Linked DNA regions of Homo sapiens: all the other regions are reported to be linked to region 1. Evidence: microRNA targets listed by miRTarBase, many of them from high-throughput screens and not tested one by one. Region 1 holds a microRNA gene; each other region holds the end of a gene's coding sequence.

Region 1 (4,145 bases):
ATTACAGGCGTGCGCCACCACGCCTGGTTAATTTTTTTGTATTTTTGTAGAGACAGGGTTTCACCATGTTGGCCAGACTGGTCTGGAACTCCTGACCTCAAGTGATCCACCCGCCTCTGCCTCCCAAAGTGTTGGGATTATAGGCGTGAGCCACCGTGCCCGGCCTAATTTTTTTGTATTTTTGGTAGAGACGGGGTTTCACCACATTGGCTAGGCTGGTCTCAAACTCCTGACCTCAGATGATCCACCTGCCTCGGCCTCCCAAAGTGCTAGGATTATAGGTGTGAGCCACTGCGCCTAGCTTTTTTTTTTTTAGAGATAGGGTCTTGCTCTGTGGCCCATAGCTCACTGCAGCCTCCATCTCCTGGGCTCAAGTGATCTTCCTGCCTCAGCCTCCTGAGGAGCTGGGACTATAGGTGCACCACCATGCCTGGCTAATTTTTATTTTATTTTTTAAATTTAATTTTATGTATTTTGTGTAGAGACAGGGTCTCACTTTGTTGCCCAGGCTGGTCTCAAACTCCTGGACTCAAGCAGTCCTCTCACCTTGGCCTTCCAAATTGCTGGGATTACAGATGTGAGCCACCATGCCCAGCTACATATGCTTTTTGATGTATAACAGGGTAATGTCCAGATAAACCCATCATAAGTCGAAAATATAGGAACTGGACTTTCAACTTAAGAGGGGTTTAGCTGGGTGCAGTGGCTCACTCCTGTAATCTCAGGACTTTGGGAGGCCAAGGCAGGAGGATCACTTGAGGCCAAGAGTTCGAGACCAGGCTGGGCAACATGGTGAGACCCTGTCTCTACAATTTTTTTTTTTTTTTTTTTTTAGATGGAGTCGCGCTCTGTCGCCCAGGTTGGAGTGCAGTGGCGCGATCTCAGCTCACTGCAAGCTCCGCCTCCAGGGTTCACGCCATTCTCCTGCCTCAGCCTCCCGAGTAGCTGGGACAACAGGCGCCCACCACCACGCCTGGCTATTTTTTGTATTGTTTTAGTAGAGACGGGGTTTCACCGTGTTAGCCAGGATGCTCTCGATCTCCTGACCTCGTGATCCACCCGCCTTGGCCTCCCAAAGTGCTGGGATTACAGGCATGAGCCACCATGCCTGGCCCAAAATTTTTTTAACAAAAATTAGCAGGGCAGGCCGGGCGCTGTGGTAGGGAGGCTGAGGTAGGAGAATGGCGTGAACCCGGGAGATGGAGCTTGCAGTGAGCCAAGATCGCACCACTGCACTCCAGCCTGGGCAACAGAGCAAGACTCCGTCTCAAAAAAAAAAAAAAAAATTAGCAGGGCAAGGTGGTGGTATATCCCTGGTCCCAACTACTTGGGAGGCTGAGGCAGGAGGATAGCTTGGGCCCAGGAGGTGGAGGCTGCAGTGAGCTGTGATTGTGCCACTGCACCCCAGCCTGGGCAACAGAGCAAGACCCCCGTGTCTAAATAAAAATACCCAGGCCATGGCAGCAGAAAGCAAGGAAGAAGCCACGTGGAAGCCCTCCTGGCGCTTCTTCCAGGGAGGTGAGCAGAGAGCACCTGGGGCCAGGAGGCGGCATGCCTGGGTTTCTGCTCCTCCTCACTGTAACTTTCAGCCAAGTCAAACTGCTAGAGTTTCAGTTTCTTTATCTGTGAAATGCCGGGGCTGGCACAGATGGTTTCTAAGATCCCTCCCAGGCCTGGAACTTCTAAGCGATTAGGTCAAAGGTGAGCTAACCGGGCTGGGCACAGTGGCTCATACCTGTGAATCCCAGCACTTTGGGAGGCTGAGGCGGGTGGATCACTTGAGGTCAGGAGTTCAAGACCAGCCTGGCCAACGTGGTGAAACCCCAACTCTACTAAAAATAGAAAAGTTAGCCGGGCATGGTGGTACACGCCTCTAATCACCGCTACTAGGGAGGCTGAGGCAGGAGAATCACCTGAACCTGGGAGGCGGAGGTTGCAGTGAGCCAAGATTGTGCCACTGCACTCTAGCCTGGGCAACAGAGTGAGACTCCGTCTCAAAAAAAAAAAAAAAGGTGCACAAACCGAGGCCCAAGACAGTTAAGGTGCAAGATCACATGGTTAGTAAGTGGGAGAGCCAAGGTTTGAACAGTCTGGCATCAGCTGACCAGGAACTGGAGCCCACCCTTCTCTCTCCCTGAGCCCGCCTACCCGCCCACCCTCTTGAGTGCGAAATTTATTAATATGGAAGGGAGAAGAGCTTTAATGATTGGAGTCATTTTCAGAGCATTAAAGCTCTTCTCCCTTCCATATTAATGTATTTCTCAGCTACTAGGGCTCACTTACAGCACCAGTGGCCCCAAAGCAGTTGACAGTCAGTGGTAATTAAATTGTCTCTCTGGTTCTGTGACTGAAGGAGACAGAAGGCTTTATGGTGGCCTGAGGAAAGAAGGTGATTTGGGGCTTGGCACTTCAGGAGAGGGCAGGCGAGTGAGCCAGGGAAGCTGGCCTGGGAAGCCTGCGGGTCACCCCCTTGCCTCCCGGCCTGGTGCTTGAGTGGCAGACGGTGAATCCTCCTCCTCCTCCATCCCCCACCTTGTGTCAGAGGCCAGAGCTCGGACTCCATCTAATGGTCTCTAGTTCAGCTGGGTATTTGGTGAAAAGGGCTTTGGGGCTGGAGACGTCCACTTTTATAACACACTGACATGGGAAGGCGCATTCTGAGTTGTAATGACAGAGCTAGACAGGTCTTGTCTGTAGATGCAGTGGCTTTAAGGAAACTAGGACGATGGGCAGGATTTTCCTAGGTGCCAGGAGAAAGGGGTGATAGAGGATTCTAGAGGCTTGAGAGAGTCAGTGTGCAGCGGTTTCACTCTGATTTGCTTCTCCAGTGAAGATGGTTGGTAGCTCCTGAGGCCGGGGGTCAGGAACATGGAGGCGGTGCTGGGGACGGTTTGTTTTCTAACCACACTCCTTTTGTAACCACAAAGGAAAAAGGCAGAACGTTCCTCCGCTGGCGCCAGCCAATCAGCAGGACTCCTGCCTTCCTTCGGGGCAAGGTCGCAGCATCTGCCTCGGAAATCACGAAATCACGGGGCTTCTTTCTGCTGGCTCAGCCGGGAGGCCCAGAGTGTTCTGCAGAGGCTGCGTATTGAAGGCTGCTCTCTGAAGCTCCCTGCCCCAGGTCACGCCGCCGGTTCCAGATGAATCCAGAGTGGGGGCAGGCCTTCGTGCACGTGGCCGTGGCCGGTGGCCTCTGTGCCGTGGCTGTGTTCACGGGCATTTTCGACAGTGTTTCCGTGCAAGTGGGCTATGAGCACTACGCCGAGGCGCCCGTGGCCGGCCTCCCTGCCTTCCTGGCCATGCCGTTCAACTCACTCGTGAACATGGCCTACACGCTGCTGGGGCTGTCGTGGCTGCACAGGGGCGGCGCGATGGGGCTGGGTCCCCGCTACCTGAAGGACGTGTTCGCAGCCATGGCCCTGCTCTATGGCCCCGTGCAGTGGCTGCGCCTGTGGACGCAGTGGCGCCGTGCCGCGGTGCTGGACCAGTGGCTCACACTGCCCATCTTTGCATGGCCCGTGGCCTGGTGCCTCTACCTAGACCGCGGCTGGCGGCCCTGGCTGTTCCTCTCTCTTGAGTGCGTCTCCCTGGCCAGTTATGGCCTCGCTCTGCTGCATCCCCAGGGCTTCGAGGTCGCACTGGGTGCTCACGTGGTGGCCGCTGTGGGGCAGGCGCTGCGCACCCACAGGCACTATGGCAGCACCACCTCGGCTACCTACTTAGCTTTGGGGGTGCTCTCTTGCCTGGGCTTTGTGGTCCTCAAGCTGTGTGACCATCAGCTCGCACGGTGGCGTCTCTTCCAGTGCCTCACAGGCCACTTCTGGTCCAAGGTCTGTGACGTGCTCCAGTTCCACTTTGCGTTTTTGTTTCTGACGCATTTCAACACTCACCCAAGATTCCATCCCTCTGGCGGGAAGACGCGTTGAACCCAGGGAAGAACCTGCTGAAAACCGATGACCCCCAGCATTGAAATGGACTCTGAGATGGCAGCGTGGTGCCAGTGTCAGACATCCTGTGTGTGATGATATGCACTGATCACACAAGACTGCCCTTTCCTGAGAAGCTGCGGGCTTCGGTGTGGAGGGGTGGAGTGCTGTGATCTCGACAACTTACTTTCAAAGACATAAAGCACAGATCTCCGCACA
Region 2 (4,145 bases), not on the chromosome of region 1:
ACTTCCTTTGCAGTTCTGAACTTCTATGTCCTTACAACAAGGTAATCTAGAAAATTCTTCCAAGAGAGAATGACTGTTTCCCCTTGAGAAACAATTTTATTTCCAAACCCCTTTCTAGATTGTTTTCATGATTCAGGTGTGTAGTTGAAGCAGAATGTCTCCTCTACATACTACATGCTTGATTTTGAGAATACTTTCTTAATATCTTTTGGCTTCGGTTTTCTAATTATAAAATAGTTGAAAATGCTTTATGATTTTATAAGTATATAAAAAGCATTAGGTTCAAAACAGAGGCTATAAGTGTGTTTAGCCAACTATTAGACACAATGAAACTTCCCGTGATTAATTAGCTACAACTACACTAAGCAGTTCATCAAAATGTAGGGATTAGAAATGATGCTGAAAGGGCAAGAATAGGCCGGGGTGGCCTCTACCTGGGTCTAACTTGCTGTCTGACTCTCTCTCAGCTCCTGAACACCCGCACCAAGATGTCCTGCCAGCAGAACCAGCAGCAGTGCCAGCCCCCTCCCAAGTGCATCCCCAAGTGCCCTCCCAAGTGCCTCACCCCTAGATGCCCCCCAAAGTGTCCCCCTAAGTGTCCTCCAGTCTCTTCCTGCTGCAGTGTCAGCTCCGGAGGCTGCTGTGGCTCCAGCTCTGGGGGAAGCTGTGGCTCCAGCTCTGGGGGTTGCTGCAGTTCTGGGGGAGGTGGCTGCTGCCTGAGCCACCACAGGCGCCGTAGGTCCCACTGCCACAGACCCCAGAGCTCTGGCTGCTGCAGCCAGCCCTCCGGGGGCTCCAGCTGCTGTGGAGGAGGGAGTGGCCAGCACTCTGGAGGCTGCTGCTAAAGTGGATCCTGAGCCTAGAAGAACACAAATGGCCAAATATTTCCCTTCCGTCTTCCTTCTCCTTCTGGGCCTGCCCATGTTGTTGAGAGGTCTTGGTGAGGGCTCAACTCAAGCATAGAGGATTCTTCTGTCTTGGAGTTCAGAGGCCCAAAACTTCTCCCCCAAAGCCAAGCCATTTAATGACCTCAGTTTGCGTATGTGTGGTTGCTCTGGGAAGCCCAAAGCACAGACCTATATCCCTTTGCAGCTTGTCTTTTTGCATAGCTCAGCCTGATGTGAAACAATAAAACCAGAAATATGCATTCCTTTTTGCCTTGACTGATTGTTATTTTTTCATTGCTTTTCATACTCTGTCCTCATCTCCAGGCTCTCCCAAGATGTTAGTATCTACAGACCTTGTTCAAATTTAGCCAATCTTCCTACTAATATCCTTTATAACAAAAGACAATTTTGTTGGTTCAAAATCCAATCCAGGATCTCCATTGCCTTGACATAGTTGCCATGATTCTTCAGTCTCCTCCAAACCGAAATGGCTCTTCAGTCTTTCTTTGTCTTCCTTGACATTGACCTTTTTAAAGAACTATTGGTTTTGTAGAATGCCCCTCAATTTGGGTTTCTCTGATGTTTCTTCTTGACCAGGCTCAGATTACACATTTTTGCAAATATCCTACAAAAGTGATGTTGTCCTTAGAGCATGATATCAAGCCTTACATGATGTCTAATTGTCCCATTCCTGGAGATACAACTTTGACCACTTGATCTGCCAGCTTTCTCTATTGCAAATTTAATATTTATTCCTTTGAATTAAAAACTTATGAAGGAGAGAATAGTTAAACTTCTTTTTTGAGTTGGAGTCTCACTGTCGCTCAGGCTGCAGTGCAGTGGCACCATCTCGGCTCATTGCAACAACCACTTCCTGGGTTGAAGCATTTCTACTGCCTCAGCCTCCCAGGTAGCTGGGATTTCAGGTGTGTGCCACCACGCCCAGCTACTTTTTGTATTTTTAGTAGAGATGGGGTTTCACCATGTTGGCCAGGTTGGTCTTGAACTCCTGACTTCAAGTTATTTGCCCACCTCAGCCTTCCAAAGTGCTAGGATTACAGACGTGAGCCACAGCCCCCAGCCTAAACATCTATTTTGTTTCAAACATTTTCCCAAAACTTTTTTAGTATAATTGATGTTCTTTTACAAAACTGTTATTATTATTATAGTGTTGCTGGTATTGTTGAGTATAGTTTTTTAAAATATATTTATCTCATACCCTGAGTCTATGTACATATGTAAAGCAAAGAGAGGTGGTGAGGATGGGTCCTGAGCAAAATCAGCAATGTCCTGCAACACAACTACTTGAAGGAAGGCCATTACAATTTCTTCTTGTTGAACTCTTATTATATCTAATTTCCTGTGATGACCATCCTTATCCATTTATCTCTCCTACATTATAACTCTACTTTCAGGTAAATTCCTATAACACAATGTTTTTGTGTAAAAAGATTTGCTTATTATAAATTTAAACTCATTACACCTCAATAAGTATCAAATTGCTATCCAGAATTGTTATGCCAATTCACATTGCCATCTCAAAATATGTTTATTACCAACTGTCACATACTATTTTGTTAGTCATTAAAATAATTGTCATTTTGAAATAAGTAAATAAATCTGTTAGTCTCCTTTCTCAAATTCAAGATATTTCTTTTTTATTTTGTTTGCATTTGTTTGAATATCAGTAAAGTTGAACATGTTTTTTGAAATTTTTTTTGTTTGCTTGTTTTAAATGGAGTTTCACTCTTTTGCCCAGGCTGGAGTGAAGTGGCACAATCTCGGCTCACTGCAACCTCAGCCCCCTGGGTTCAAGCGATTCTCCCACCTCAGCGTCCCAAGTGGCTGGGATTACAGGTACCTGCCACCATGCCCTGCTAATTTTTGTATTTTTGGTAGAGATGGGGTTTCACCATGTTGGCCAGGCGGTTCTCGAACTCCTGACCTCAGGTGATCCACCCACCTCAGCCTCCCAAAGTGCTAGGATTACAGGTGTGAGCTACTGTGCCCAGCCTTTTTGAATTTTATTTGCCATTGTATTTGCAAAAATATGTACATATGTGATGGTTAATTTTATGTGTCAACTTGGCTAGGCTATGGTTCCTAGATCTTGCTCTAGCACCATTCACCAGTCTAAATGTTGTTGTGAACATGTTTTTTTTTTAGATGCGACTAATATTTAAATCAGCAGAGTTTGAGTAAAGCAGATTGCCCTCCATAATATGGGCAGGCCTCAACCAATCAGTCAAAGGTCTTAAGAGAAAAGACTGATATCCAGAGACGGAAAAAATATTCTGCCTCCAGGAACAAGGAATGCTTATACACTCTTGGTGGGAGTGTAAATTAGTTCTGCCATTGTGGAACACAGTGTGGCAATTTCTCAAAGACCAGCAATTACCATTCAACCCGGCCATCCCATTGCTATGTACATACCCAAAGAAACATAAACTATTCCATTATAAAAACACATGCACATGTATGTTCATTGCAACACTACTCACAATAGCAAAGACACGGAATCATCCTAAATGTCCATCAATGATAGACTGGATTAAGAAAATGTGGTGCCTATATACCATGGAATACTATGCAGCTGTAAAAAAGGATGAGATCATGTCCTTTGCAGGGACATGGATGGAGCTGGAGGCCATTATCCTTAGCAAACTAACACAGGAACAGAAAAACAAACACTGCATGTTCTCACTTATAAGTGGGAGCTAAATGATGAGAACACGTGGACACATAGAGGGCCTGTCAGAGGGTGGAGGGTGGGAGAAGGGAGAGGATCAGGAAAAATAACTAGTGGGTATTAGGCTTAGTACCTTGGTGATGAAATAATATGTACAACAAACCCCCATGGCGTAAGTGTACCTATGTAACAAACCTGCACTTGTACCCCTAAACTGAAAATAAAAAGTTAAAACAAAATCTGCCCTCAGAATGATTTTGGACTTGAGACTGCAACATCAGCTCTCCCCTGAATCTGCATCCTGCCATCCTTCCTTACAAATTTTGGTTTTTCCATCCCTGATAGTCACTTGAACCAATGCTGCAAAATAGTCCTCTTTCTCTCTTTCTTGCTCACACTTACTTTACCAAAACATAACAGAATCTAAAGGAATAGAATCTTAAGGACAAGTTTTCTGAATGAGTTCTGGGATTTCTGGAATTTGTTTTCTAGCCTAACTAGATTTAAATGCACTAATGAACCCTATTTCCCATAGTGAAGAGAACACTGATAGTAAATGTGGCTATAGG
Region 3 (4,145 bases), not on the chromosome of region 1:
TAAGCCTCCAAATCTATGGAGAAGGTGGCAATTTTTTTTATTTTTTATTTTTTATTGGGACGGAGTCTCACTCTGTCGCCCATGCTGGAGTGCAGTGGCACGACCTTGGCTCACCACAACTTCCGCCACCCGGGTTCAAGTTGCACTCCAGTCTGGGTGACGAGTGAAACTCTGTCTCATTAAAAAAACAAACAAAAAACTGAACTGTGAGAACTTAGCTGATTTATAATCTGCTGGTTCTTTTTTTTTTCTGAGTCGGAGTCTCGCTCTTTTTCCCAGACTGGAGTACAATGGCGTGATCTTGGCTCACTGCAACCTCCGCCTCCTGGGTTCAAGCAATTCTCCTGCCTCAGCCTCCTTGAATAGCTGGAACTACAGGCGTGTGTCACCATGTCTGGCTAATTTTTGTGTTTTTTTAGTAGAGACGGGGTTTCACCATGTTGGTCAGGCTGGTCTTGAACTCCTGACCTCGTAATCCACCCGTCTCGGCCTCCCAAAGTGCTGGGATTACAGGCATGAGTCACCGTGCCCAGCCTCTGCTGGTTCATTATTACAGCTTTCTTTATCTTTGATAGTGATAGCCAGCTCATCAGTACTCTTAAGTCTGGTCACCTTGATTCTTACAGCCCATCATGTTCAGAGGTGAGGTCCGTCTGAATGTCGAAGAGAAGAAGACTCGAGCTGCCAGGGAAGGCGACCGACGAGATAATCGCCTTCGGGGACCTGGAGGCCCTCGAGGTGGGCTGGGTGGTGGAATGAGAGGCCCTCCCCGTGGAGGCATGGTGCAGAAACCAGGATTTGGAGTGGGAAGGGGGCTTGCGCCACGGCAGTGAATCTTCATGGATCTTCATGCAGCCATACAAACCCTGGTTCCAACAGAATGGTGAATTTTCGACAGCCTTTGGTATCTTGGAGTATGACCCCAGTCTGTTATAAACTGCTTAAGTTTGTATAATTTTACTTTTTTTGTGTGTTAATGGTGTGTGCTCCCTCTCCCTCTCTTCCCTTTCCTGACCTTTAGTCTTTCACTTCCAATTTTGTGGAATGATATTTTAGGAATAACGGACTTTTAAAGAAGCAAAAAAAAAGACTGAATTTCCTTGCTTACTTTGCATATACAGACTGGATTTTTTTTTTTTTTTTACAGCCATTTCCCCAAAGGAATGTCTTGCATATTACTGACATTTGGTATGTTTCATTCATTGGAATATTTCTTATTTTCTACGTGTTTGAAAAGCCTGTAAGAAATACAGGATTTGATAATATTTTGAAGGCAGGAAAAACCCAAATTGTTTCTTCTTTGAGAGTCATGACTACCTTCTGGTGTGGAGAAATTGCCATTGGAAAATTTGACAATTTTGATTCTCACTGGTATGTTTAAAAACTGAATAAAAGGAATAGAATTTTTTTTTGATAAAGGATCACAAAACAATTCTAAAACCTAACTGTTTTTACCATTGAAATTTAAATTGTGATAATAGGTTTTAAATGTCTAGAATGCAACTGATAGGCTTTTCTTGAACTGTTAGTTTTTTTGAAGTAGTTTTTTCATGTTTAATTTGTATTTGTAAAAAAACAAAAAGCAAAAAAATTCCCAAAACCCAGATAACAACCAGAGCAAAACTGTTGTGCCTTCTATTTATCTTTGATTTCAGTCTTGGCAATTGTTTAAAAAAAAAATCTAGATTTGTTTTATTAGGTTCAGAGTATGTGGGGAATTATAGAATCCCTCTTTCATCACTTTGTGTATGTCTTTTGTTAACATATTTGTTATGCCTTATTCTAAAATTGAGTCTCAAACTGGAATGCCTTTGAAGACAGATGCTTCTATAGAGGTTCTTTGACCTAAATAGTTCAGCATTTGTATTTTTATTCTGGTATCTAATCAGATTCCTAATCATAGCCCGTAAGAAGGAATGTTACTTTAATATTGGACTTTGCTCATGTGCTCGTGTCCGCATTTTTTTTTTTCTTAAAATCATAGCCATATGGTAAATTTTCTATTTTGTTATGGTTCTCTTTTATTGATGGGCATGCAGTGGGTGTTACTTGGAAATGGCCAATTTTTATTAAAATATTTCTGGAAGAAAATTTAATCTGGCAATATAGACTAATACTCGTTTCACATATGTGTTATTTGTTGAGTGCTGTGTGTGAGATGGGTGAAGGTTTTGTTTACACGTGTGAAACAAACTTTTGTGTGATTGTCATTACTAATTGAAGGGCAACCAGGTTGTAAAATTCAGCGTATTTATTTTCTTAACAGTATTCATCTTTAGGACTGTCGTTTGAGGATAGCATAGGAATATTTGGTTTGCATTACTGAGAAACTCTAGGTTTGCTGTGATGGTTAAGACCACAGTGAAGTTGGTATTACCAGTTTGGTTCCAGTTCCTCAAATATTTGAAAATTGGCAGCATCTCCTTTACATAAACTTAATGTAACTGAATCACATGGCTTTTTTGTAGGGTTAAAGTAACTTTGGTAACCACTTTTGGCCCAGATCACTGATAATAGGAAGAAATACAACTTATACTTTTGTAGCTTATATTAAGCATGTGGTGGGTGGAAAGAAAAGTTTAGTCTGAGTCACTTTGGAAAAAAAAATTACTTTGTGGTAACTTCAAGGTCATAAATTATGGATAGCCTAGAAATTATCCTTCATGAGTGAATACTAAATTATACATTTCAAAACAGAAGTTCTTCCTACTTGGAGACTTAAGGGCATTAACTAGATGCAGCAATCCTCAGCTTGGTGTTATCACATACTAGAGGACATTTGGAAATGTGTGAAATTTGGAAGGGTTGTTGGAGAGACATGCATCTGGCATTTATTGGGTGGGGTCTAAGGATACCAAATGTTGTGTAAAAATGAAGCAACCCCATTGAGAACACTGATAGTCCCTATTCCTGTGGGTGGGTGGAGCTGTGGGATTAGGAAAACTGGAATGAAGACTCATTCTTTTGAAACTCAGCCTCAGATAAATAACAAACTAGGAAATGGAAATCTGTTTCAAGAATTGCAGTAACATCTACTCTAAGGAATTAGTAATTTCACTTTTTATTATTTGTACCAAATGTATGTGTGTGTTGTGTATGTTGGTGTAAATGTGGAGAGGTGGTAGCAATACATACTGATGCTGCTTGTAATTTGTTGCAGGGAATTACTGCACAATCTCAGAAAATAGAAAGCTTCCCCAGTGCTTTCTGTCATCAGAGTTGGGATGATTGTGAGGTTTTGAATGATAGTATTGGACCTAAGAAATAGGATTAGCATCATGATCAGAACTGTTGAGAATCCTTGTACAATTATGTACATTATTGCATGTAGAGTAAACCTGAGAGCTTAGAGATGTATACGTTTCCACTGCTGGAAAATCATTATAAGTTAGGGCAACATTTTCTATAGGTGGCAGCAGTAGGAGCTCATCACATTGAACATTTTCAGATTTTAAAATGAAAATTTTCATCCGTAGGAATGGCCCAATGTATAGTTATTAGCTACTGAGCTTAGAACTCTTGACCCATGAGATTTTTTTTTTAAATTTTTATTTTTATAGAGGCAAGGTCTTGCTATGTTGTCAGGCTGGTCTCAAGCTCCTGGCCTCATCAGTTCTCCTGCCTTCCAAGTAGCCGGAACTACAGGTGTGCACCATTGCACCTGGCCTCATGAGTATTTTAGTTAGATAAGATTTGTTTGGTTCAGTGGGTCTTAGTTTTTTAAGACCTGTTAATTTGTAATTAGACATCTTGGGCCTTAAACTGTATTTTTGTTTTAGTGGTGAGGTTGGGTTTTACTTTGTGTATTCCAGCGTTCTCAACTTTGTCAGATATTGCTAGGGACCAGTGAGATAGATAATCCAAAAATAATAATTTGACTTTGGTTGAGTATGTCATTACCACAGTGTTAGTTGAATTGCACTTTAGGTTAGAAAAGTTAATTTTCACATCTGTGCTGCGGGTTAGGTGATATTGTCCTCAGCACAATAGATGAGGAAGAAACTGAATCAGAACAGTTAAATGACAGGCTTCCAAGTCATCCATGTAGCAAGGAGCACATTTGCCTCCCAAACTGATGCTTTTTCTCTAGAACCATAATGCCCCCCTAATTACATTTCAGTAGCATAGACCGCAATGAACTTCCT
Region 4 (4,145 bases), not on the chromosome of region 1:
CAGGCCCCTTAACTCCTAGTCTCTATAAAATAAGGAAGGGGGTTGTCCCAGTTTTCAGTCTAATGTCCCCATTCTATGACAGACCCATGTCTTCTTTATGTAGACCAAGGAAGAGGAATTTTAGCAAAACTACCTGATTATGCCCATGTTTCCCAAATACCTTGATTTTTCTTATATTGACATTTCATCTGCACATGTCTGGGTGATAATTCATTAATCAATGTAAAACGTAGGGACCCTTTATTAGCTCCATAATGAAAAAAATCTCTCCACCAGCCAAGTGCTGGGACCCAGGTGGCCACCATTGTTATTGACAGGTAAGGAAGCACTGGAAATGCACCATCCTCTCCATCCCCACACTTTCCAGAGTAAAGCAAGGATGAGGACACCCAGGCATTGTGCCAAGGCTGCCATTGCAGGAGGGCACAGAGAGAGGATGGGATAGAAAAAGCATGGAATAAGCAAGAAGCCACTGAGACACCAAAGGCTAAACTGCAAACTGCAGTGTGGCTTCCAACCAAGCAAGAGCTGGTCTCATCTGCTCATGGCCACCCTGTCAGAGCCATTTGCTAAACATGTTAGTAGATCCAACACACACACACACACACACACACACACACACACACACACACACACACACGAGAGTAGTCCTCATTCAGTGCATAGCAATGGAAGGCTAGGACAATTTAGATTCCTTAGGTAAGAGCACAGGAGGATGCTATAGAACAGTGACTGTTCATTCCATCCCCCAAATGACAGCGGTGAGCCACGTGTCAGAGGCTGCAACACAGACTCAGAAACTATTCTACTTGCTTTTTTACCACTGGTGTCAGAGAGACAGCTTGTAATCCTAATATTTGGTGCCAGCAGGAAGAACTTCAGAGCTTTTGTTCTTAGTGGCATATGAAGGTAAATTCAAATGTTTTCTTCTTCGGCTTTAAAACAGAGCTTAAATTCTTAAGCACAGCCCCAAAGCATGATAATAAAGTGGCTTACCCTCCTGGGTGTGGAGTTACACAAACTCTCCCTCATCTAACTCACGTCGGGAATCATGATGTGGTTTCATATGCACGCACGTGTTGGGGAAACCCTAGGCTCATATTCGAATCTAGTGTTGCAGAGCCTGAGGGACTCTCGTGAGATGCTCTGACCTCCACATCCCACCTCATCCTTCCTCTGTGGTTCCCAGTCTGATCCTTCCATGAGCTACATCAGCGCCAACACCTTTCCATGAAGGAAGTGATGTTGGGGTCGCAGTTTAGCCTCACTCTTGATCTTTGAGTCACACACACTCGGTGACAATGTCTTTAGAAGCTGCAACACAGCAGGACAAACATTCAAGCAGAAATTAAAAAGCACATGCATGCTCACAAAATTACTCTGGGTGAGTGAAACCAACATGTGCACACACACCCATGAATTCGACAGAGCTGGGCAAGAAGAAAGCTGAAAAGGCCAAATTAAATACGTTCGAAGGAGTCTACTTTGGAGTTGCAGAGATTTAAAAGAGAAAAACATGTCTTTCCTTAGCCTATTATTGAAAGAAACCTTAAAAACCAACAACAGCATGGGCTTGATCTGATTCATAGGATGCCAGAGAGACAGCAGAGGATAACGACTGGAAGAACTAGAGTCAGTAGGACATGGGACTTGTTTTTGTTTTTTGCTTTTTGGTTTTTTTTGGCCATGAATGATATGGCCCCTATGCAAAATCACCTAATGGCATGCCACTGGGCCAATCTGGGGGCAATTTGTGTTTTTCCTTTCTTTGCAAAGGTGGAGCTCCAGACAGCTCCTGTCCTAGGCGGGGAGCAGGAACCAGACCTGCTATGGGAAGCAGAAAGAGTTAAGGGAAGGTTTCCTTTCATTCCTGTTCCTTCTCTTTTGCTTTTGAACAGTTTTTAAATATACTAATAGCTAAGTCATTTGCCAGCCAGGTCCCGGTGAACAGTAGAGAACAAGGAGCTTGCTAAGAATTAATTTTGCTGTTTTTCACCCCATTCAAACAGAGCTGCCCTGTTCCCTGATGGAGTTCCATTCCTGCCAGGGCACGGCTGAGTAACACGAAGCCATTCAAGAAAGGCGGGTGTGAAATCACTGCCACCCCATGGACAGACCCCTCACTCTTCCTTCTTAGCCGCAGCGCTACTTAATAAATATATTTATACTTTGAAATTATGATAACCGATTTTTCCCATGCGGCATCCTAAGGGCACTTGCCAGCTCTTATCCGGACAGTCAGCACTGTTGTTGGACAACAGATAAAGGAAAAGAAAAAGAAGAAAACAACGCAGCTCCTGTTGTATACATAAGGTAATGTGAAAAGCTCACATGTGGACACTACTCTGTGTTTCGGAACATAGAAATTTCTACGCCATGCTTCTTGGCAAGTGTTACTGTTGGCTGGCCCGACATTTGACTCATGGTGTTTTAACCAGACTTTCTCTTTTTGGTGTTGCTGAGCGACGGTAGTTTGCAAATTCTCCAATCAAGTTTGGGCCTCAATATGACATCCTATGGGGCACCGCCACTGTCAGTCCTTTCTCTAATTGCCATTCACGAGTGGGACTTAGAAGAGTTTTGCTTTTTTCTTCATGTCGTTGCGTCTCCAAAGAGGTAACCTGTCAAACTCCTGTATGGACATTCCAAAGATTTCCCGAAACACTTCAGGGGCTAAGTGGCGCTGGGAAGAAGAAAAAAAAAAAAGAGCTGCTGTCAGTCCTGATGGCCACACAAATGGCCTTGAGCGTTGCTCTATAGTTTATACAGAGTCATTCTGAAGAACAAGGCAGGAGGACGGGAGAGGAGCCCATCTTTAATGCTTGTGACATCAGTATCCCTTACCTGGTTGGGCCAGGTGAGGAGCCCTTCCCATCAGATAAAAGAGCTGGCAGAGTATTAATGGGGATTATAATAATAACACTGACTGGTGATGGGACACAGAGAGGTGATTTATTACATTGGAGACAACTCCATCCCAGGTCCTTGGAACGTTGAGAAGATGCAGGGAAAATGGACTATCGCAATAGAAAGCCAAAGAAAATGACCTCCAGCGTGGTCCCTGGGGAGCCCCAGGGCTTCCTCCTGGCTGAGGAATAGGGGGTAAGGTGGATGTCTGTTCTACTGAGAAGACTTCCCATCAGTCATTCCCCCCTAGAAAAGTTCCCCCAAGATCCTGCAGCCTTTATTCTCTGTACCTCTACGCCAAGGTACTGCCTTTTGTCAGGAAAAAGTAAGCATTCTTTCGGAGACTGGCAGCCAGGGTTTTTCTTAATTAAAATCATTGGGATGGAAAACTATAATACAAAAATTAGTCTTCCATGTCTAAGGAGATCTTGGGTACATGTACCCAGATAACCCTTCAACAAGGAATGTGGAAACAGCCAAGAAAGAAACTTGTCCAGTATAAATCAGTATAAATGTCTCTCCTGAGAGCCTTTGCCGCTCCCACAGCCTCCCATGAACTCAACCCCAGCTCAGGGGAAGATAAGGATCTGAGACTATCTCAAGAGAAATAGCGACTCCCATTCTGAATTACCAGCCATAATTATGGCAACATCAAGTTTCAAAGAAAATGACTGAAATCATTCTGTGTCTCCTGGGTCATTCTTTTTTTCTTTTTCTTTCTTTCTTTTTTTTTTTTTTTTAGACGGAGTCAGGCTCTGTTGCCCAAGCTGGAGTACAGTGGTGTGATCTTGGCTCATTGCAACCTCCACCTCCTGGATTCAAGCGATTCTCCTGCCTCAGCCTCCCAAGTAGCTGGGACTACAGGCACCTGCCACCATGCCCCGTGAATTTTTGTATTTTTAGTAGAGACAGGGTTTCACCGTGTTGGCCAGGCTGGTCTTGAACTCCTGACCTCAAGTGATCTGCCTACCTCGGCCTCCTAAAGTGTTGGGATTATGGGCGTGAGCCACCATGCCCACCTCCTGGGTCATTCTTCTGGATATTACCAGGCATTTTTATGCTGATCTAAGTGAAAACCTGGATATTTTTTTTCTCCAAAGTTATTTCTTAGTTCTACCTATGACATGAGGGTGATCTTTATAATTTTTTTTTGTTTTCACTGAAGAAATAAAACATTGCTTAGGGGAGAGTTGGGGGAGTGCATAGGGATCTGCAGTTGGGACTGGATTTTTCGGTTT
Region 5 (4,145 bases), not on the chromosome of region 1:
CTGCCCACCTTGGCCTCCCAAAGTGCTGGGATTACAGGCGTGAGCCACTGCGCCCGGCCCAAAAAATGTAAATCATAAGATAAAGCATTGGTTTCTTGTGAACAGCTACAGCTACTTCATGCGGGGTTCTTTTGTTTTAGAACCTGTGAGTTCCACAGATAGTTGCTCCTTTGAGAAGCTGGCTGGCCTGGTTGATCACATAGCCTGTAGTTGCAAAAATACTTAACAACGATAATTCTGCACTCCTAAGAAGTTTTACTTGAGGATGCTGTCAACTTTGCTGATAGTTTTGGTAGCCATAAAAAGAATAAGCAGAAAACCCAGTTAATTAGTACCGTATTTCTGGTTTATTCTAGTGATTGAGTTGATGTCAACAGCCCCTGTCCCTTAGTTTAAATCTGCTTTTGAAGTAGCTTCCTATGGTTTAATTGCCGAATCATTTTACTTGAAAACAATTTCTTGTTCTGCTTGTTTGACTGAGTGTACTGTCTATTTTCACAGTGTTGTCATGACTGGATCTTACAATAATTTCTTCAGAATGTTTGACAGAAACACAAAGCGAGACATAACCCTAGAAGCATCGCGGGAAAACAATAAGCCTCGCACAGTTCTGAAGCCTCGCAAAGTCTGTGCAAGTGGCAAGCGAAAGAAAGATGAAATAAGTGTTGACAGCCTAGACTTCAATAAGAAAATCCTTCACACAGCCTGGCACCCCAAGGAAAATATCATTGCCGTAGCTACTACAAACAATCTGTATATATTTCAAGACAAAGTGAATTAGGGTTGGCATTCCTAGCAGAAGAACCCACTTCCTGCTTAGTTGAGATAGTTGAATCTAGCATTCGTTCCTATAAAAGAGAGAGGTCCATTGTGGCGCCCCTTTCCAGTGTTTGACAGTGTGCCATTCGACAACACATTGTTATAGCTACATGGAGAAAGCTCTGTGGATTCATCACTGTGGTGTTCTCCATGTCTGCTAGCCATTTAGGTAAGGGTAGGGCACTTTTAATTTAAATGACTTCTTGCACCATCTTGCCTAATGGACTAGATTGGACTGTATCAACATTGATTTACTCCACTTTTTATGCCTTCCATTGTGATGACGTCAAACACAGTGAAAGCCTTCAGTCATGCTATGGGATTTAATTGTGTATCCTCATTACTGTATCATTTGTGGGGTACACCCCTTCCCCCTTTTTTTAAATTAAATACAGCTCATTCTTACTGTGGCTTGTAGCATTCCTCCTCTTCTGGCCTCCTGGACTGCTCCCCTTCATCTCTTACCCTTGCCCCCTCCACCCGGTCTTGGTGGTGGTATATTAAAAAAAGAAAGAATGAAAGCACACAAAATGAGTCAGTTTGGGGTCAGTGGTATAAAGGGGGTATATGTTGCAAACAAATGTTTTAGTAACAGTTGGCTGTAATCACTCCTCGCCGTGTCTGGCACTGAAAATAAGGAAAAAAAACCTACTACTGAATAAAAGTGACAAAGAATGGAGAATCTGGTTTTCTTTTTCTTTTTAACCTACCTCTTGTAGCCAATATTTTGTGTCATACCTTTGGGCACAGTGAAACAAAATGGGTTTTCATTGTTTATTGGTATTTTTGTTAATTATTTTTAACAAGTGTTCTTTTACATGCAGGAGGAGAGGTATTGGTTCTCTATGAACATATTTTGAATATAGGTTTTATTAAGGATTTCACAATCTATAAATGCTACTAGTTTTTTTTTTTTTTTTTACCATCATGAGGGTATTGGATACATTGTGTCTCTATTTAACTCATTATGTGTTAATGAAATTGTTGTAAATGGGAACCAAATTTGTAGAACTTAATTTCTACTTTTTAGAGTGCTTAATTTCATTTTTGCCTTACTAAATAGTCAAAGACTTATAAAACATTTTTAACAAGTTAGAACTTTTTTGTTATTCAGTCATATAAAATAGCAGAAAACTAACATCAAGTGACACTGCACTAAATACTTTTTTTGTATTTTACTGCTATCAAATCAGAATGAAATATACTTTACCATAGATATTTTTCTTCTATTTTTGGTTTTCCAAAGCTATATGAAAGACAAATTTTTAAAGGTACAGCGTTCAAAAAGTGCTTAATGAACTCCAACAGCTGCCTCAAATAAAAATCTGTATATGAATACATTTTCCCTAAGCGGTGATACATTATCCAAAGATGAAGAGTGCTCCTATTTTTAATAGGTAGAATGTACCTTTGTCAGTCTTGCAGAAACTTTAATGGAGAAGAAATGGACTTTATTTTTGAAAGGTGAAATGAACAGGCATTTATATTATTAGAGAATGGTAGTCTTATTTTGGTGGAACATAATGTAACAACCTTGAATTTCAGAGGACTCTGAGTGCTTCTATGTCCACTACCTATTGTTCTATTCTTCAATAATGAAAAAGAATTCAACGAGCCGACCGTGATTCCCTCTACTACAAATATTATGTCTTGTAAGTTAGCATTTTTAGCACACAGGAGAAATTTTATGTAATAAAATTACTGTATCTTTTGGATTTAACAAATTTGTATTTGAAACACATTCTATGTCTGATAATTCTTAATGGCACTTTTACTAATTTATTTGGGGATCTTGGGTACATTCTTAATTTGTGTTTATTCTTCACGCTTGACTTGCAAGTGGGATATTCCCCTGCCACAAGTGTCAAACAGTGATATTCTTCCTGTGTTGTGACTGGACAGTTTTCCAGATCTTTTTTGGGAGATTTTCCTACAGCTTGGTTGTATGTCTTGAGATAACACCACCAAACAGCTCTCAGAAATTCTTTTTTGATTGATCAGTAGCTATGATGATTCTCCTCCATGACACTAAGGATTAGTTTATATATTTAAGAGAAATAATTGCTAAAATTAAAATGCCTCTATCAAGGAATGCTATTATAAATTATTGTTAACATTCTCAAGTATTAATTTTTTAATTTCATTGGTGTAGCAAACTCTAAGCCCAGCCACTCATTTTACATGGCCATGGTTAATCTTTTTATTAATAAAAATTATACTTAGAATAAACTTAGTCTTGTCAAGTTGCTTGTATTTCCTATTCTCTTGCCACTAATATACATGCACATACTCCATCACTTAACCTTTTAGAAGAGATTGTGGGTAGGAAAAGGACTTTCATTCTATTAACCTCTTTTGATCTTTACTTAGTGGCTGGGCAATAAGAATTGTTTTATAAACCTGTCTAAATACATGTTTATGTAACCATTAACTGCTGGATGGTAAGCTTCTGTGCAGCCCTCCGTCTCTTGGGATTAAAAAAAATGCATCCAGTCGGGCGCGGTGGCTCACTCTTGTAATCCCAACACTTTGGGAGGCCGAGGTGGGTGAATCACCTGAGGTCAGGAGTTCGAGACCAGCCTGGCCAACATGGTGAAACGCCGTCTCTACTAAAAATACAAAAATCAGCCAGGTGTGGTGGCACGTGTCTAATCGCAGCTATTCCAAAAGATGAGGCAGGAGAATTGGCTTGAATCCGGGAGGCAGAGGTTGCAGTGAGCCGAGATCGCGCCACTGCACTCCAGCCTGGGTGACAGAGCGAGACGCCGACTCAAACAAAAATGCGTCCATGCACTCTTTTCCTTTCAAAATGAAGAGAATTTTTTAAACCTTAAATGTGAGTTATTCTGGTTAGGGATACTTCTACGGAAAGCTAGAGATAGGAAAGCAGGTTCTTTCAGTGTGTGACTTTTGAGTAAGGTGTTAATTAGGAAATTGTGCACATGTGAAAGCTATGCAGTACTGATAAAGAATTTTTAGTGATATTTAAACCCTTCTAAGGGAATATTGTTTGAGCATCTTTACCACACATAAATTCAAATGTAGATAGTATTGTGCCCTTCCAGAAAAACAAAACCAATCCCCCCCAAAAGATGGAAAAGATAGGCATATGCTGGGTAGTCAAGAATCAAGTCAGTTTACTTGTGTATTTGAGAGCACCTGTACTTTAGTATCTTACTTATCTATCTGTTCAGATGGTGATAGTTTAAGCTCTGCGTGTATGTCTTACTGTGGTTAAAAAGGGAGTTTTATGCACCTCCTCTTCCCCCTCAAAAAGCCTTGAAAAATGACCCTGCTTCATTTTGTAATTATGCATGAAGTCAAAA
Region 6 (4,145 bases), not on the chromosome of region 1:
AGGAGGATCGATTGAGGAGTTCCAGGCTGCAGTGAGCTGTGATTGCACCACTGCATTCCAGCCTGGGTGACCGAGTGAGACCATGTCTCAAACAAAACAAAACAAAACAAAAACCATACAGTTGACTTGGACAGTAAGTTTGATTTATATGAGGTGCCAAGGTGGAGTCATTGGGTGGGCAATTGACAAGATGAGTGTAGACCTCAGAGGACAGATATTGGCTGGAAGTAGAAATTTAGGTGTTGCCAGCATAGAGATGAACTTTTTTTTTTTACTATTATTATGAAAAATTTCAAATATAAAGAAGAGAGAATGATATAATGAATAGCCAGTTTTGCCCATCTAGATTTAGAAATTTTTTTTTTTTCTATGTTGGTTTCATGTTCATTTTTTTAATAGTATTTGTAAATTGCAAGTATCCTGACATTTCCTGCCTAAATACTTCATGTGTATCAGCAGATTATTGAAACCATGAGAGAGGATGGTCTCCTTGGAAGAGAGAAAAGAGAGTGAAACAGAATGTAATCCTTCAGCCTCTTAAATATTTGTGCTGGTCCCTGCAATGGGGAATATATTGCTGATGGGAATCCATCTCTCTTGCTACTTTCATGGAAATAATAATGCCTGTCATTTACTGAGCACTTATTACCTGCTGGCATGGTCTCATTTAATCTTTCCACCAATGACTGAGGTTAGAATATTAAACCCATTTGACAGATGAGGAAACTGAGGCTCACTTGGGGTCTGGGACTTAATGAGTGCTTTTCACTTAAGTGCCAACTGAAGGAGTGAGGCTGGGAGAGTAGAAATAGCTTGCTCAAGGTGACACAGGTCAAAGTTATCAAACCTGTCATCCTCACTCCAAAGCCAGTGATCATCTTGAGGGCCCTCAGCATTTCAGAGCTGAGTTCCTGCTCCCTCTTGACCTCAGACTTGTCAGGGGAACATTTGTCCTGCCAAACTCATTTCTTTTCCATTTTTGATGTGTGTGTATGTGTGTGTGTGTGTGTGTGTGTGTGTGTGTGTGTGTATGCTTGTGTATGCACAGTTGGGCTTTGAGGTCACAGATAGATCACAGATTGTATTTTGGGATTGCCCCCCAACCCAAGTACGTACCAGAGTTCTAAAGAGCAGGGCTCCTCTGAGTGGGTGCTCCCACACCGCCACCTCTGGTCTCTCATGGCCTTCTGTGCTGCCTCCCACCAGGTGCACCCCAGACATGGATGTCATCCTCAACATTCCTGTGGAAGAGCCACTACCCTTCTAGATGGCAGTGCCATGGGCCGCCCTCCCCTCCTGCTCTCTTCCCAGCACCTGGAGCCTTGGATCATTTACTTCCAGGACCGGATCTCCATTCAGACCCTGATCTACAGTCTCCCTGCTCCCTCTGCCCTTCCTCCCTCTTTCTTTCCCTCCCTCCCTCCCTCCCTTCTTCCCCCCTTCCCTTCCCTCCTCCTTCCTTCCTCCTCTCCCTCCCTCCCTCCTTTCTTTCTTCCTGTGGTTTTTTCCTCTCTTCTTCCCTTCTTTCTGGTTGGTGCTGCTGGGCCAGGTGGGAATTTCTGATTAAATCTGCTATTCCTTTTTTACCAATAAAGCTGGATTTACATTTGCTTTTTTGCCAGTGTCTCGGGGTCCCCAGCTAGGTCTTGCAGAAGATGTGGTGGGAACGGACTTCGTCTTATGATAAGGGGCGGGCAACTGTGCTAACTGCATCTGGGGCTCAAAACTTCTCCAGAAGAAGTGCTGGAGCAACCCCCTGCCTGAGTCTCCATGGCTCAGTGGCTCTGGGCCACTCCCTCCTGGTGCAGTGGGAGCCCAGCTTCTCTCCAATCTGTGCCCAGACCTATTGAGGGCATTGTCGGGGCTGACAGGCTTATTGATTTTAATACCCCTGGAACTTGCTAGGCCTTCAGTGCTTGGAACAACTCAGAAGGGCTACTCTGGCTCCAGAACTTCCTGAAGGCTCAGCTGCAACTACCCTTGGGCCTGCACTGCAGCTGAACTTCTCCCTGTGCCCAATCCTGCATATTTCTGTCTTCCTCAGTTGTTGATTCCAAGAGCACTCATTACTCAACATTCTGCACCCTACACTCCATCTCAGAGTTGGCCTTTCTGGGCCAACTACTAGATTGCTACAACCCCCAAGAGGCTCTGGTCACTCACAGATCCACTTTGTGTTAAGATACTTGGTTACAGGTAACAAAACAACCAAATCACATTGGCCTAAACTATGAAGGGCTCAGGTCAATAAATAGCTTAGGTGAGGCTTTGTCCAGAAATCAAGTGATGGCACCAAGGACTTGGTTTCTATTTATCTACTTTGTTTTCTGAGGTGTTGCCCTTTTCTTCAGGTCAGCACTGCTTGTGGCCCCAATATGCCAGCATCTCCCAGGGTTGTACAGGTCCTTGTACATGTCCTGTTGGAAAGAGAGAGACTGGCTGTGTCCCAGAATTTTCAGCCAGTGTATTAAGATTCACTGTAATTGGGCTGGGCACAGTGGTTCACGCCTGTAATCCTAGCACTTTGGGAGGCCGAGGTGGGTGGATCACTTGAGGTCAGGAGTTCGAGACCATCCTGGCCAACATGGCAACACCCTGTGTCTACTAAAAATACAAAAATGAGCTGGGCGTGGCAGCAGGCACCTGTAATCCCAGCTACTCAGGAGGCTGAAGCAGGATAATTGCTTGAACCTGGGAGGCAGAGGTTGCAGTGAGCTGAGATTGTGCCACTGCTCTCCAGTCTGGGTGATGGGGGATGAGACTCCGTCTTTAAAAAAAAAAAAAAAAGATTCATTCTAATTGAACCAGCTTATATTACACGCCCACCTTGAGCCGGTGTTGGAGGTGGAGCGTGCCTGCTGGTTTAGTTCAGGTCACGGGCTCTACCTTGGAGCAGGGAAGGGATGGTTAAGGTGGAACACGTGACCTAGGCTGAGCCAACAGGTACTCCCCAGAGCCATGTGGATCTCCAAGCAGAAATGGACCCTGTTGAACACAATAGCAAACACTTCAATGGAACCTACGTTATGCTTTACATACATCAACTCACTACACCCTCACAACAACCACCCTGTGAAGTAGGTATTGTTTATTGTTATTTTCATTTTACAGATGAAGAAACCAAAGGATGAAAAGGCAAAGTGATTTTTCAAGTCACCAGGTTACTAAGTGGCAGAGGCAGTTTGCTCTTAACCACTGTACAATCAGGAGCTCAGCTGAGCAGGAGAGAGCTGAACTGCTAAGTGCTGGAGTAGCTGATTAATGATGGCCCGGCATGGTGGCTCAGGCCTGTAATCCTCACACTTTGGGAGGCTGAGGCCAGTGGGTTGCTTGATCTCAGGAATTTGAGACCAGACTGGACAACATGGTGAAACCCCATCTCTATAAAAAATATAAAAATTAGCTGGGCATGATGGTGTGCACCTGTAGTCCTAGCTACTAGGGAGACTGAGGTGGGAGGATTGCTTGAGCCCAGGAGGCGGAGGTTGCAGTGAGCCGAGATCGCACCACTGCACTCCAGCCTGGGTGACAGAGCGAAACCCTGTCTCAAAACAAAAAAAGTCAAAGCAAGTAATAGCCAAGCCCCAAATCTCTTATTATTACAGTACAAGAAAGAGGCTAAACCAGAGAACCTGGTTTGTTTTATTTTGTAGAACACAGATCCACCTGTTCTAATTTCCTCATAGAATGATGCCAACTGGGGTCGGGTGGATGAGCACAGGTGTGGGGTTGGTCTCACTGCAGAAAAGCTTCCAACAAAAAGGCTCCTGAAGTTGTACGGACCTGGGGGCCAGGGATGGGGTGGGGAAGGGAGAGTGGGAAAACTTCTGAGTCAGCATGGAGGAAAGTGTCTTCAAGGATTCTCCACTCCCCAAGATAAGGAGGTCCTGGCCGAAGGCCTACCCCACTGCAATGAAGACGTGTCTGAATGAAGACTTGGGTTGGGAGCGGAGATGTGTGTGAGAGGTCGACTGTCCAGGAGGCCTGAGTCTGTGTCTGCAACTGTCTTTAAAGACTGCAACGCATCAGCTGTGCACGACTCAGCTGTGAGGCCTGCCAGGTAAAACCTGTCATTGCCTGTGTTTGGGCTGAAAAATCACACATAGGTTTTTAGCCAGGAGCTGGACTGTTTGTGAAGGGATGCA
Region 7 (4,145 bases), not on the chromosome of region 1:
CCGTGTCCAGCTGTGTCCGGCAAACTAATGGTTTTGTCCAAAGGCATGCACCATGGAAGCTGAACTGGGAGAGCCCAGTGGATGCTCCCTGGCTGGGTACTGTGCTTCATGTGGCCTTGGAATGTTTGCGAGTCTTTGGGACTTTGCTGCAGCCTGTCACCCCAAGCCTAGCTGACAAGCTGCTGTCTAGGCTGGGGGTCTCTGCCTCAGAGAGGAGTCTTGGAGAGCTCTATTTCTTGCCTCGATTCTATGGACATCCATGCCCTTTTGAAGGGAGGAGGCTGGGACCTGAAACTGGGCTTTTGTTTCCAAGACTAGACCAGTCCAGGACTTGGCTGGTGAAAGCCCACCGGACCTAGAAACTCAGTTCTTACCGGCTTGTGGTAAAAAAGCAAATGTGTTATCTTTTTATTTTTTATTTTCAGGAAAGTTATACTAGTATTTTCTTAAGTGTGGAATCAAATGAGCACATAAGCTGTGTCCCTGTGAAAAGAGGTTTGTAGCCTTTCAGGTGCCTGCTCCTATTCATTTCTCTGTGACCATTGATCACTGTCCTTTGTGCATTGTGTGTCTAAGATGTCTTCAGGGGAAAGATGGGTAAGAGACAGTGTTGCTAATGCTGTTCCTTCTTTGTGCCTCCTTCCAAACCACAGTTATTTGCCCAAACTACCTCTCGTGGCTGGTTTTTCATTGGCCTGGCCTCTGCTTCTCAGGCTAATTAGTGACTCCTTTCTTTGAGGGTCAGGGTTGGAGGCCCCTTACTGGTGGTTTTACAGGGGGATCCTACTTTGTTACACATGTTGGGTTTCCTGATAAAAAGAGAGTATTTTATTAAACCCTTGAACCAGTGTCCTAGACCAGATGATTTTTGCCCATGTGTATCCCCATTTAAATTCCTACAACTAAGTCTCCCTGCTTTGTTAATAGTCCAACAGTTGGGTTGTGTAACATCACACTTCAACCGGTAGATGGCTCTAATCTCACACATTTACTTACTAAAGATTGAGGATTCGGAATATTTAGAATAAATTAGTTTTCTGCTTTCTAATTTTGCAGATCTTTACATTTTTATTGCTTTTCTTAAAATAAGGGATAGCTTTGCAACCACTATTGTTTTAATGGAAAGCAAAAAACCCCCCCAAACTTATCAGAATCCTCGTTCTTTTTCAGACTACTGAAAAATGACATTTACTCTGTTAAATGTTTAATAAGTGAATAAGTAAATGTATCAAGTTGTTTATATAATAAATTATAAAACTCTTGAGGCACTTGGTATGTTAAAAATTTTAAACTTTAGTAACATTAGGTTACAGGTATGATTTAAAAATTTGTAAATAGTTCAAAAGGGCAATGTTTTCTTTATATTTCTTATAGTCTTAATTTTGTTATCCATGTGCATAATTTACCTCATGATTTCTTTTGGTCAATCAGGATCTTTAATACAATATAGAAATTGTGTAATAGTTATTATAAATGTTAATACACAACTTTCAGGTAATTTTAACTGATTATTTCTTTTGCTCTTTTAACTTAAGTTATTAAAGTTTAAAAGTTCGTAAGTACCTTATTCAGATCTGTTCTGTTGCATTCGTTGAAGGTGATGGTGAAAGGAGGAACTGACCAATGCTTCAGGAATCTCAGACTGGATTTAGGAATCTCTCTAAGGCTCCATAAGAGAACATCACAGAGAAGATGTTAGCAATTTATACAGTGATTACAACATAGTAAGCCAGTTATGTCTCATAGGTGATTAGACAGCTGGGCCAAAGTTCAAAATGAGAACTTGCCTTGGAATATACATTCTAAGTATGGTAGCAAGTAGAGAGGGCCCACAATGAATTAAACTATTGTACTGGTAGTTCCCCTGGATTTATTCTAGGTGCCACCATTCAGTTCCAGTTTCTGTTTATTAATCAGCGAAATGAGGAATTTTTGGTTGCTGGAATATTGCTTAGAAGAGAATGCTTGAAGGTATTCTAAAGGTGGAAGGACTGTTGCCACAAATGTCCCTTCAGACCCTTCTTATTCATAAGTCTGGGCTTTCCACATGACATGTTCAAGTTAACTGCTGGGGTTATTAGCACAGACTACTGGGGCATAGGATGTAGGAGTGTAATATCTCCTACAGGTGGATAGAGCAGAGAGTGGAAAAAGATAATATGTATTTACGTGGATGAAGGAAAACATATTTGAAAACCAGTGAGATGATAACCTCTGCCTCTGAAGTGCTCTTATAGCAGTGTTACAGTTCCTACCATGGATGGAGACAGTGTCTTCTACTTGAATGATCTTTCCTATAGCCTTGTGCTGGTCAATACAATCGACCTTTGCTTGCTGGAGGGTGTCAATGGAGTTCTTTTAGTGCAGTCTGTCATTTGTGCAGGCACTTAGCTGGCTACCTGGATATTTGTGATACTGGAGGACACAAGAACATAGGGGAACCAGATAGGACAGGGCGTAATTATTAGAAAGACAGGATATTTTATTTTGTTTATTTATTTATTTATTTATTTATTTATTTATTTATTTATTTTTGTGTGAGCAATAAAGCTTTTTAATCACCTGGGTGCAGGCGGGCTGAGTCGGAAAAGAGAGTCAGCGAAGGGAGATGGGGTGGGGCCGTTTTATAGGATTTGGGTAGGTAAAGGAAAATTACAGTCAAAGGGGGTTCTCTGGCGGGCAGGGGTGGGGGTCACAAGGTGCTCAGTGGGGGAGCTTTTGAACCAGGATGAGCCAGGAAAAGGAATTTCACAAGGTAATATCATCAGTTAAGGCAGGAACAGCCCATTTTCACTTCTTTTGTGGTGGAATGTCATCAGTTAAGGCAGGAACCGACCATCTGGATGTGTACGTGCAGGTCACAGGGGATATGATGGCTTAGCTTTGGTGCAGAGGCCTGACTTTCCAAAGACAGGGTATTTTAAATGGAGGAATGTGTGGTAAGTTGGATCTGACTTCTGCGGTGATCCTGAAGATGAACCAGTTGGATTCTCTATAGGAGGCACAATAGATACAGCAAATATTCTTTGAATAATTAGTGATGTGTTTGAGTTGGTCCAGAAGTTTAAGAATAGCAAATGGAGAATACGTGAAAACTGAAGGGGATGTACTTCCAAGAGGGGGCATCCTAACCACTTCTGGTAGAAAATGATACACTTGTAGAATTCCCTACTCTAGCACTGTTAATACTTTTATCTGGCATTTTCTGGATTCCTTCGCCAGAAAGTAACTGTCTTCCAAATACTATCCTTGAAGTCCTCAAATATTCATTTTGGTGTGTTCCTGGAAGCAGCGTTGCAGGAGGTGAAAGACCACTGCCTAGATCAGGTATTCATGGATGTCACATTAGGAGAGTAATAAAAAGACGTCAACTCACTCAGCAGACTATAATCCTCTCTGTGAAGTCATGTGAGAAGTGGGCAATGCACATTTTAAGTTGCCCCATTATATACTGGAGGGCTGTTTCACAAGTGAACTCATAGATTAGACAGAAGACCTATGGCTATAAGAAGGAGCATAAGAAATAGATATAATCTCTGATTTTATTGAAACCTCAGTTTATTCTGCATGTAGACCTCATTATTTCTCTTAAGAATCTGTGGACTTTGTAGGGTCTATGAAGAGCCCAATAAATTGAATATGAAGTTGATGTCAGAGTACTTAAGAAGGGCCTAGGCTGGAACATGGGCCCTGGGACACTGGTCTTCCCCCTTCCCCCCACCCCCCAAGGTGGTTGTACCTGTGATTGGGACTTAGGTTAGCTCTTTAGCTCTGGGAAATGTCAAAACTGAAGTGAAACCAGTAGTTGGTCAGGTTGTGAGCCCTCAATGAGGATGACATCATCATGAAGTGAGACCTGGAGTGCTGGTGGGTCCTTGCCTTGTCTTTTGTCAGAAAGTGAATATCAATGGACCTAAAAGGGTGTAGACATATTGACAGATTATTGACAGATTATTATTATTATTATACATATTATTATATGTATAATAATAATATGTATTATATGATACATATATAATATAATATGTATATATATAATACATATAATATAATATGTATTATATGTATAATAATATGTGTAATATTATACATATTATTGTCAATATGTAGACATATTGATAGATTCTAGAAGAAAGCCCTTGAGT

What was found. The annotated mature microRNA hsa-miR-3202 reads UGGAAGGGAGAAGAGCUUUAAU and lies in region 1 at 2,226-2,247, opposite strand. An mRNA with a match to its seed (bases 2 to 7 or 8) in the 3' UTR can be bound and repressed. Matches are read on the target gene's strand: a 7mer-m8 pairs with bases 2 to 8, a 7mer-A1 pairs with bases 2 to 7 and ends in A, and an 8mer does both.
Region 2: the mRNA of LCE1B is a reported target of hsa-miR-3202. Seed matches in the 3' UTR shown: 7mer-m8 at 888-894.
Region 3: miRTarBase lists G3BP1 as a target of hsa-miR-3202. Seed matches in the 3' UTR shown: 7mer-A1 at 3,622-3,628.
Region 4: miRTarBase lists ABLIM1 as a target of hsa-miR-3202. Seed matches in the 3' UTR shown: 7mer-A1 at 670-676 and 7mer-m8 at 34-40.
Region 5: the mRNA of PPP2R2A is a reported target of hsa-miR-3202. Seed matches in the 3' UTR shown: 7mer-A1 at 1,088-1,094 and 7mer-m8 at 1,185-1,191.
Region 6: the mRNA of C20orf96 is a reported target of hsa-miR-3202. Seed matches in the 3' UTR shown: 7mer-m8 at 1,391-1,397, 7mer-m8 at 1,438-1,444 and 7mer-m8 at 1,443-1,449.
Region 7: miRTarBase lists MARS2 as a target of hsa-miR-3202. Seed matches in the 3' UTR shown: 7mer-A1 at 639-645.

Annotation. Positions count from the first base shown.
Region 1 is chrX:153,978,923-153,983,067 of GRCh38, forward strand. It overlaps MIR3202-2 (microRNA 3202-2), which reads right to left and starts at 2,254; the gene lies at 2,176-2,254. TMEM187 (transmembrane protein 187) reads left to right here. Exons shown (of 2, transcript NM_003492.3): 2 at 2,928-4,145. The coding sequence starts at 3,141. The coding sequence ends at 3,926. MIR3202-1 (microRNA 3202-1) reads left to right here and starts at 2,175; the gene lies at 2,175-2,255. RefSeq lists an enhancer at 1,552-1,661.
Region 2 is chr1:152,811,959-152,816,103 of GRCh38, forward strand. It overlaps LCE1B (late cornified envelope 1B), which reads left to right and starts at 13. Exons shown (of 1, transcript NM_178349.2): 1 at 13-1,150. The coding sequence starts at 489. The coding sequence ends at 845.
Region 3 is chr5:151,803,259-151,807,403 of GRCh38, forward strand. G3BP1 (G3BP stress granule assembly factor 1) reads left to right here. Exons shown (of 12, transcript NM_005754.3): 12 at 627-4,145. The coding sequence ends at 833. Among named protein-coding and RNA genes, the nearest start is that of G3BP1, 33 kb to the left of the region's middle.
Region 4 is chr10:114,433,691-114,437,835 of GRCh38, forward strand. ABLIM1 (actin binding LIM protein 1) reads right to left here. Exons shown (of 23, transcript NM_002313.7): 23 at 1-2,683. The coding sequence ends at 2,570. Among named protein-coding and RNA genes, the nearest start is that of AFAP1L2, 31 kb to the left of the region's middle.
Region 5 is chr8:26,369,633-26,373,777 of GRCh38, forward strand. It overlaps PPP2R2A (protein phosphatase 2 regulatory subunit Balpha), which reads left to right. Exons shown (of 10, transcript NM_002717.4): 10 at 502-3,048. The coding sequence ends at 781. Among named protein-coding and RNA genes, the nearest start is that of BNIP3L, 11 kb to the right of the region's middle.
Region 6 is chr20:268,329-272,473 of GRCh38, reverse strand. C20orf96 (chromosome 20 open reading frame 96) reads left to right here. Exons shown (of 11, transcript NM_153269.3): 11 at 1,207-1,611. The coding sequence ends at 1,267. Among named protein-coding and RNA genes, the nearest start is that of DEFB132, 13 kb to the right of the region's middle.
Region 7 is chr2:197,706,829-197,710,973 of GRCh38, forward strand. It overlaps MARS2 (methionyl-tRNA synthetase 2, mitochondrial), which reads left to right. Exons shown (of 1, transcript NM_138395.4): 1 at 1-1,567. The coding sequence ends at 359. Among named protein-coding and RNA genes, the nearest start is that of MARS2, 3.5 kb to the left of the region's middle.